2 separate regions of the Homo sapiens genome follow, and region 1 is linked to region 2. The links come from fine-mapping of genetic effects on gene expression. A gene starts in region 2. The other region holds a variant in brackets. All regions are shown on one strand. Distances are from middle to middle.

Region 1 (2,909 bases), 420 kb after region 2:
TCCTCCCACAACTTAATCCACTGTGAAACATTTTTCAGTAGTGTTTTTATCTTCTGGGCAGAGAAGAACAGAACAGGACCCTAATACTAAATAGGACATGGAAGGAAAAAGAGATCATAAGTTGAAACCTTCACATTCACAAATCCATGAAGGTTATCAACTGTTTTCCTAGTTAGACAGAACTAGATGATTTGAGGAAAGTTTGCCCCACAAGCAAAAATAAAGTGAAACACCACTTTCCTCACTCTTTAAAAAGAAAGATAATTTTAGCCAAACTTTCAACCCCTAGAGCAAGCTGGGGACTAAATATGGAACACTTAGGAGAGATAAGGAATTGATATTAATGCAATCTGACAAGGAAGTCTCACATGGACTCCAGGAAGACAGGGTGTAAAACACAAGCTTGACTTGTGTAAAGGCTGCCTTGCACTGCCTCCCAGTAATTCCTGGGCTTGGTCAAGGCAGCAGGTGAACCAGTCTGGGAAGGCTGGTGACAAGGTCCTCCAGAGTCTTCGCCTCCAGGACACCTCAGAGCCTAGACCTGGAGTGGACTGCCCTTCCAGCCAGCCTTTGTGCTGTGCTGATAAAACCCAAGGGAGACACAGGGAGAGAGGTAGCCATCCTCATACTTCATAGCTGAGGGACAAAGGGCTGGGGGCCACCTGCTGGGAGGCACCAGCTTTTCTGTTGCTTAAATTTAGCGATTATTAATGGCTAAAATAAGTTTAAGAATGCCCTATCTTAAACTATCTGATCTATCCCTATCAGAGATAGGGACAGATAAATCCCTATCTCTGACTTTATGTTGAGGCAGGGATTATGTTAACCAATATTTTTCACATATCCAGAGTCGACTATGAATACTAATGTGGCAGAAATATGACAGGTATTGATTTACTGTCAATAGCAAAGTTGCAGAGATTTAGTATTTTCTTAAGATTCTCAGATTTGCAAACCACGTATAATAGTATGTACACTTTTAGATTATGTTCTTTTTAAAGGCCCAGTTTTTAGGCAAAAAGCCTTTAAAGGGTGTCTGGATCCTCTCTGAATTCATGGTTATTTAACTTTATTATAATATCCAAAACCCTTAGCTGGTAAAGGCCTGTGGGATCAGGTTCCACTGTCCTCATCCATGCTTTAAGGCCCACTACTGCTTCTGGGAACAAACCCTCCGCTTGTCCGATGGGTCAGGTTCAAAGACACTTTGCCTGGACGGCTCTTCTTACCACCCAGCAAATCACCTACATGTTCAGATGGCTCCTGCAGCCCCACCTTCCCTACGCTATCCTTGACTCAATTCTTAAGTCACTCACCTAGTATCTAATCATAATGTGCCTGAAATGGCAACTTTTTCAGGGACTTTGAGCTCCTAACATGTTGAACTCCTTGAAAGCTAAGCAAAGTCTTCAAATCAAATCAAACACTTATGGAGCACCTACTACTTTAAGAGCACTGTCTGGTATCTTCCCTCGTGCAGCACATATTCCAGTGAAAGAAACAACAGTTTTCTTGATGTCCCAAGGAACCTGGTAAGTTGAAAGTACTAAATGGATGCACTATAAATGTTGGCTGAATCAATCAAAGAACCATCCTCCTGGAAGAACCCTCTCTTCCTCTTTGCCAACTCAAACACTCAGCATCCTTTCATTGCAACTGCTTCCATGACCTACTC[A/G]TATTTGCCAAGAGTTAGTCTGAGTCCAGGCAGAACCTACTGCCTGGTGGGATATGACCTAGGATTTGCAGTACTTTATGTGAAAAGGATGGTTTCCAATCATTCAATTTCTAAAACTCCTATTTCTTACAGATGAAATCAATACAAGGCACGATTTTAACATTCAACTAATTCTCAAGTATTTAATAAAAGGTTTATCTTCTCCTATCCTTTCTGTACATCCCACCATAGATATCCTTACCACCAGCCCCCAAATTAAGAGTCTTGCTACTCTAAGTTTCAAGCTGCTGTCAATAAAGTGATTCACCTTTTAAAAACAATAGGGAATTGTAGTACAGGAGGAAATGTTCAGTCATCAAACATGACCTGCATATCACAATGTTTATGTTTGCTGGGTGTGACCCTATCCTGTATGACTCTTCACTGCATTTACTGGGGTGTGTGTATGTGGGGGGCGGGGCAGGGATGAATGATAGGAGTGTGCAGGCTGGGATGCCCTAGATCCCTGGAGGGTGGGTGGAAATGCAGGTGTAATTGCCAGTCCATCTCAGGGTTTAGCTACCAAATACTGAAGGGAGGATCTCTAAAGCGCTCTTTTCCTGCTTTAGATACACAGGATTCTGAGAGACAATCTAATTTTTCCAAGTGATTCTGAAACTGAAAACACAGAATCAGCTAGTTGAGTTCTACAAATAGTCCAAACCACCTGTAAGGTATGACCAGGACACACAGGTGACACAGATGGTGGCCATGTAACAACCATCACACCAGTGCCACAGAGGAACTGAGAGGAACTCCAGGGTGGCTCCACAACTGAGGGAGACAAAGGAGTGCCCTGGCCAGGTGTGCAGATTCCGGTAGTGAGGGGAATCTGCGTGTGTGGCCCCGGTGGCCCTCTTCTTACAGCTTGGCCTGCACCTGCACCTTGGTGTAAGTGCCGGCTGGGGCTGCCTCCCATGGGGCACCCCACTCCAGCCAGCAGGGCAGTCTGAGTAGAACCTGACGAGTGGGGCAGGGAGTGCTTTGGCTTTTGTTACTCGGTGGGCAGGCAGCATTTTCAGGTAAACATTAGGGTCACCTTCCAACAGGTCTATCAGTCAAGACACTTTCTGATTACTTATAACTACGTTGGGCGGTATTGCTGTCTGATCTTTTTTGAACATACAAATGACCAATGAAAGCCCCAATTAATTACAGTGGCATATACAGAAATGAAGGCCTACTGGAAATTAAC
Region 2 (2,909 bases):
TTTCCTGCTGTATCCTTAAAGCCTGCAAGAATTCCTATCTAGGAATACTGGGGATTCTTTTACGAGATGGATTTGACAACTTGCTTTCAAAGCCCTGCCTAGGATTTCATTTGACTGAGCAAATAAAGCCCAGAACATCCCTAAGCAAAGGCAAACAAAGGTGCAAATGCGCGGAGATCCCAAATCCACCCCGCGTGTGTCCACAAAAAAGGGCGGAATCAGAGGCAGCAGCGCGAAGCTCCAGTTTCCACAGCATCCTTCCTTCTTGGCCTTACTTAGGCCGCTCCCTGCGACCCTTGGGATCAGGATCCCAAATCCTTGCCTCACCCACCACACCCCGCGCTTGGGCAGCTGGACTAGTCCTTCCCACGCAAGTCACTGGAAAAAGTCCTTGGACTAAGGGAGGCCACCCTAGATGGCTTTGTCTCCAAAATCCCAGAGGAAATGGAGGAAGGAAAAACCCTGTCAAGGAAAGGTGACAACCCAGCTTACAGTGCTTACCAAGCAGACGCTCTCAGTCAGCCCCTGCCACCGCTAACCGTTGGTTCGCGGGCACCCACAGGCAACGTCGCGGTGGCCCCTGGGGGTTGTAGTTTCTGTCGCAAACAAAACGCGCCGGCAGCATCGAAACTACATTCCCCACAAGTCAACGCGAAGACGTCCTACCGACTTAAATCTGGGGTTTGGAGTAATGAAGAGGCCGTCACTACTTTTAGGGTGATCTTAAATGTAGACTCAATTTCTTCCAGGAGTCCCTTCGCGCCCTCTTTCTTTGTCGTGCTTGTTTTATGTGTGACGAAGTCTCAGTGTACTTCTACGTCTTACTTTTTCCTTCCCCTTCTCCAGGACAGAGTCCAAACGTCCGGGAACGGAAACCGCCTCAGGGCGCAAGCTTAGCGCCTCCGGGGGCGCTTGGCCCAGTTCGCAGTCACGCATGCGTAGCAGCCGGCAGTGGCTGGCAGCCGCGCGCGGCGCACTTGGGGTCCGGAGGGTAGCCTGCCAGAGGGCGGGGCTTTTTCCTAAGGCTTTGCCTCGGCGGGTCGCGTCTGCCTGGGCGGGGAAGAAGGCGCTGGGGCCGGGGCGGCTCCCGGTTTGTGCCGGGCGGAGAAAGGGGAGGGGCTGGGGGTGAGGACCCCGTCTCCACTCCCTGCTCCCGCCCTCTGGGCTGATCCCCACCGATGGGGCTGGGCGAAGGGCGGGCTTTGCGCCTCGGGCCCCGCCGCCCCGCCAGCTCCGCGGCCCAGCCTGGCGCTCGAGGATTGCCAGGGCCGCCCTGTGCCCTCTGGCTCGGCGGTGGTGGGCGAGGGCTCAGGGATCGGAGAAGTAGCGTCTTCCCGGGGGTGCCGAATTGGCGGGGCTGGGGGACGCTTTTTTTCACCGCCGCCCGCCGAGACTACGGCTGCCCGAGACTGCCGCCCTCCGACAGCGCCCAAGCCTCCGGCCGCTGCGGCCAGTGGGCCAGGGTTCGGCGAGCCTTCCCTGCCGGCGCCGGCCGGCTGCTGAGGCGCTGGGAGGAGCTGCGGAGGGCGGGGACTGGTGTCGGAGAAGGGGCGGGGTGGGAACGCCGGAGAGAACCCGGTGGCTGCACAGACAAAAAAGCCCCGAATGGCTGGAGGGCGTTCAGCTGTTAACAGCCTTTTGGGGCAGAGCACGGATTTGACAGCTCCACAACGTGAGGATATCCACTGACCCCGCGAGACGGAGGAGAACGCTTCCCCGAAATTCTCTGCCCACCAAAGCCAGCGCTGCAAGGTTGCAACTTTCAAACTTTGTTTTTCCAGAAAGAAGACTGCCCTTTCGTGTACAAGGAGAGGGTGAGAGGGTGACCTAGCTTGTAGATCGGCTGAAGGCACCAGTGGTTCCAAATGTCACCCAGATGTGTGTTTTCATGACGATTTGATTTCTCTGATTTTATTTTTACATTTTTCATTTTAAAAATACAAAGCAATTTTTTTGGGGCATGCTGAAAGGTAACTGAAGACCGCAAAGGAAAAACTATTGTCATGGCTGAAGGAGAGAATGAAGTGAGATGGGATGGACTCTGCAGCAGAGATTCAACTACTAGGGAGACAGCATTGGAAAACATTAGGCAAACCATTTTGAGGAAAACCGAGTATCTTCGTTCGGTGAAAGAAACACCTCATCGTCCATCAGACGGGCTTTCAAATACCGAGTCTTCGGATGGGTTGAATAAGCTACTTGCTCATCTGCTTATGCTTTCTAAGAGGTGTCCCTTCAAAGATGTGAGAGAGAAAAGTGAGTTTATTCTGAAGAGCATCCAGGTAAGGAAGAGCATTTTAAATACAACTATGTCTCTACTACAGTTAAATTTTACTTGCCGTTATTCACGTTGTGTTTGTTTCTATTAGGTTGTTATGTAAACTTTTATTATGAGTTTACATCTTTAGAGTGTTCTGTAAGTAAACAAGTAGTGTTTTTCTAGAGTTTTAGGCAGAAACTGCTTTGCTCCTGGAAGAATATATGAAAACTACAGTTAATTCCAAGTAAATACTTGTTTTTCCTTATATTTCTTTTTACATGTTGTTGGAAAATGTAGCCAGTGTTTTTTTTTCACATTGTCACAGTGTTCTGAGTGTAAAGGCTCACATTTAAAAGCCTCTAAAATGATAAAGGATATTAAATGTTTCCTAGTCAGCCTGTTCAAGATAATTGGTGGAACAATTTTCTCTTATTTTTAAAAACAAAACAAACCAGGATGTGTTCTCTAAATGCAACCTCTCTTTTTTCAAGAAGAGAATTATATAAAATAATAAAAACCTATCTTAAAAGAAGCTAATATCTTCATGTTGAAAAGGTGGACCCAGGTGGGGTATTTGATAGAAACACTTTTATGGCAAATTGCTCAACTAGCTTTCTCTGTGTTTGCCTGAATTGTTTCTTTTTCACAT

The links. PIP is the estimated chance that this variant, and not a neighbour inherited with it, causes the effect. A credible set is the group of variants that fine-mapping cannot tell apart.
Region 1: its variant is the best candidate, but not a certain one, in a credible set for the expression of SESN1 in ileum (GTEx, PIP 0.61).

The regions. Positions count from the first base shown.
Region 1 is chr6:108,672,979-108,675,887 of GRCh38, reverse strand. All of the region lies in intron 2 of FOXO3 (forkhead box O3), which reads right to left. Among named protein-coding and RNA genes, the nearest start is that of LINC00222, 77 kb to the left of the region's middle. RefSeq lists a silencer at 1,948-2,242. The variant A/G (reference allele first, on the strand shown) is at 1,676.
Region 2 is chr6:109,093,168-109,096,076 of GRCh38, reverse strand. SESN1 (sestrin 1) reads left to right here and starts at 1,231. Exons shown (of 10, transcript NM_014454.3): 1 at 1,231-2,282. The coding sequence starts at 2,004. CEP57L1 (centrosomal protein 57 like 1) reads right to left here and starts at 570. Exons shown (of 11, transcript NM_001271852.3): 1 at 502-570. RefSeq lists enhancers at 584-843, 1,714-1,863 and a silencer at 904-1,603.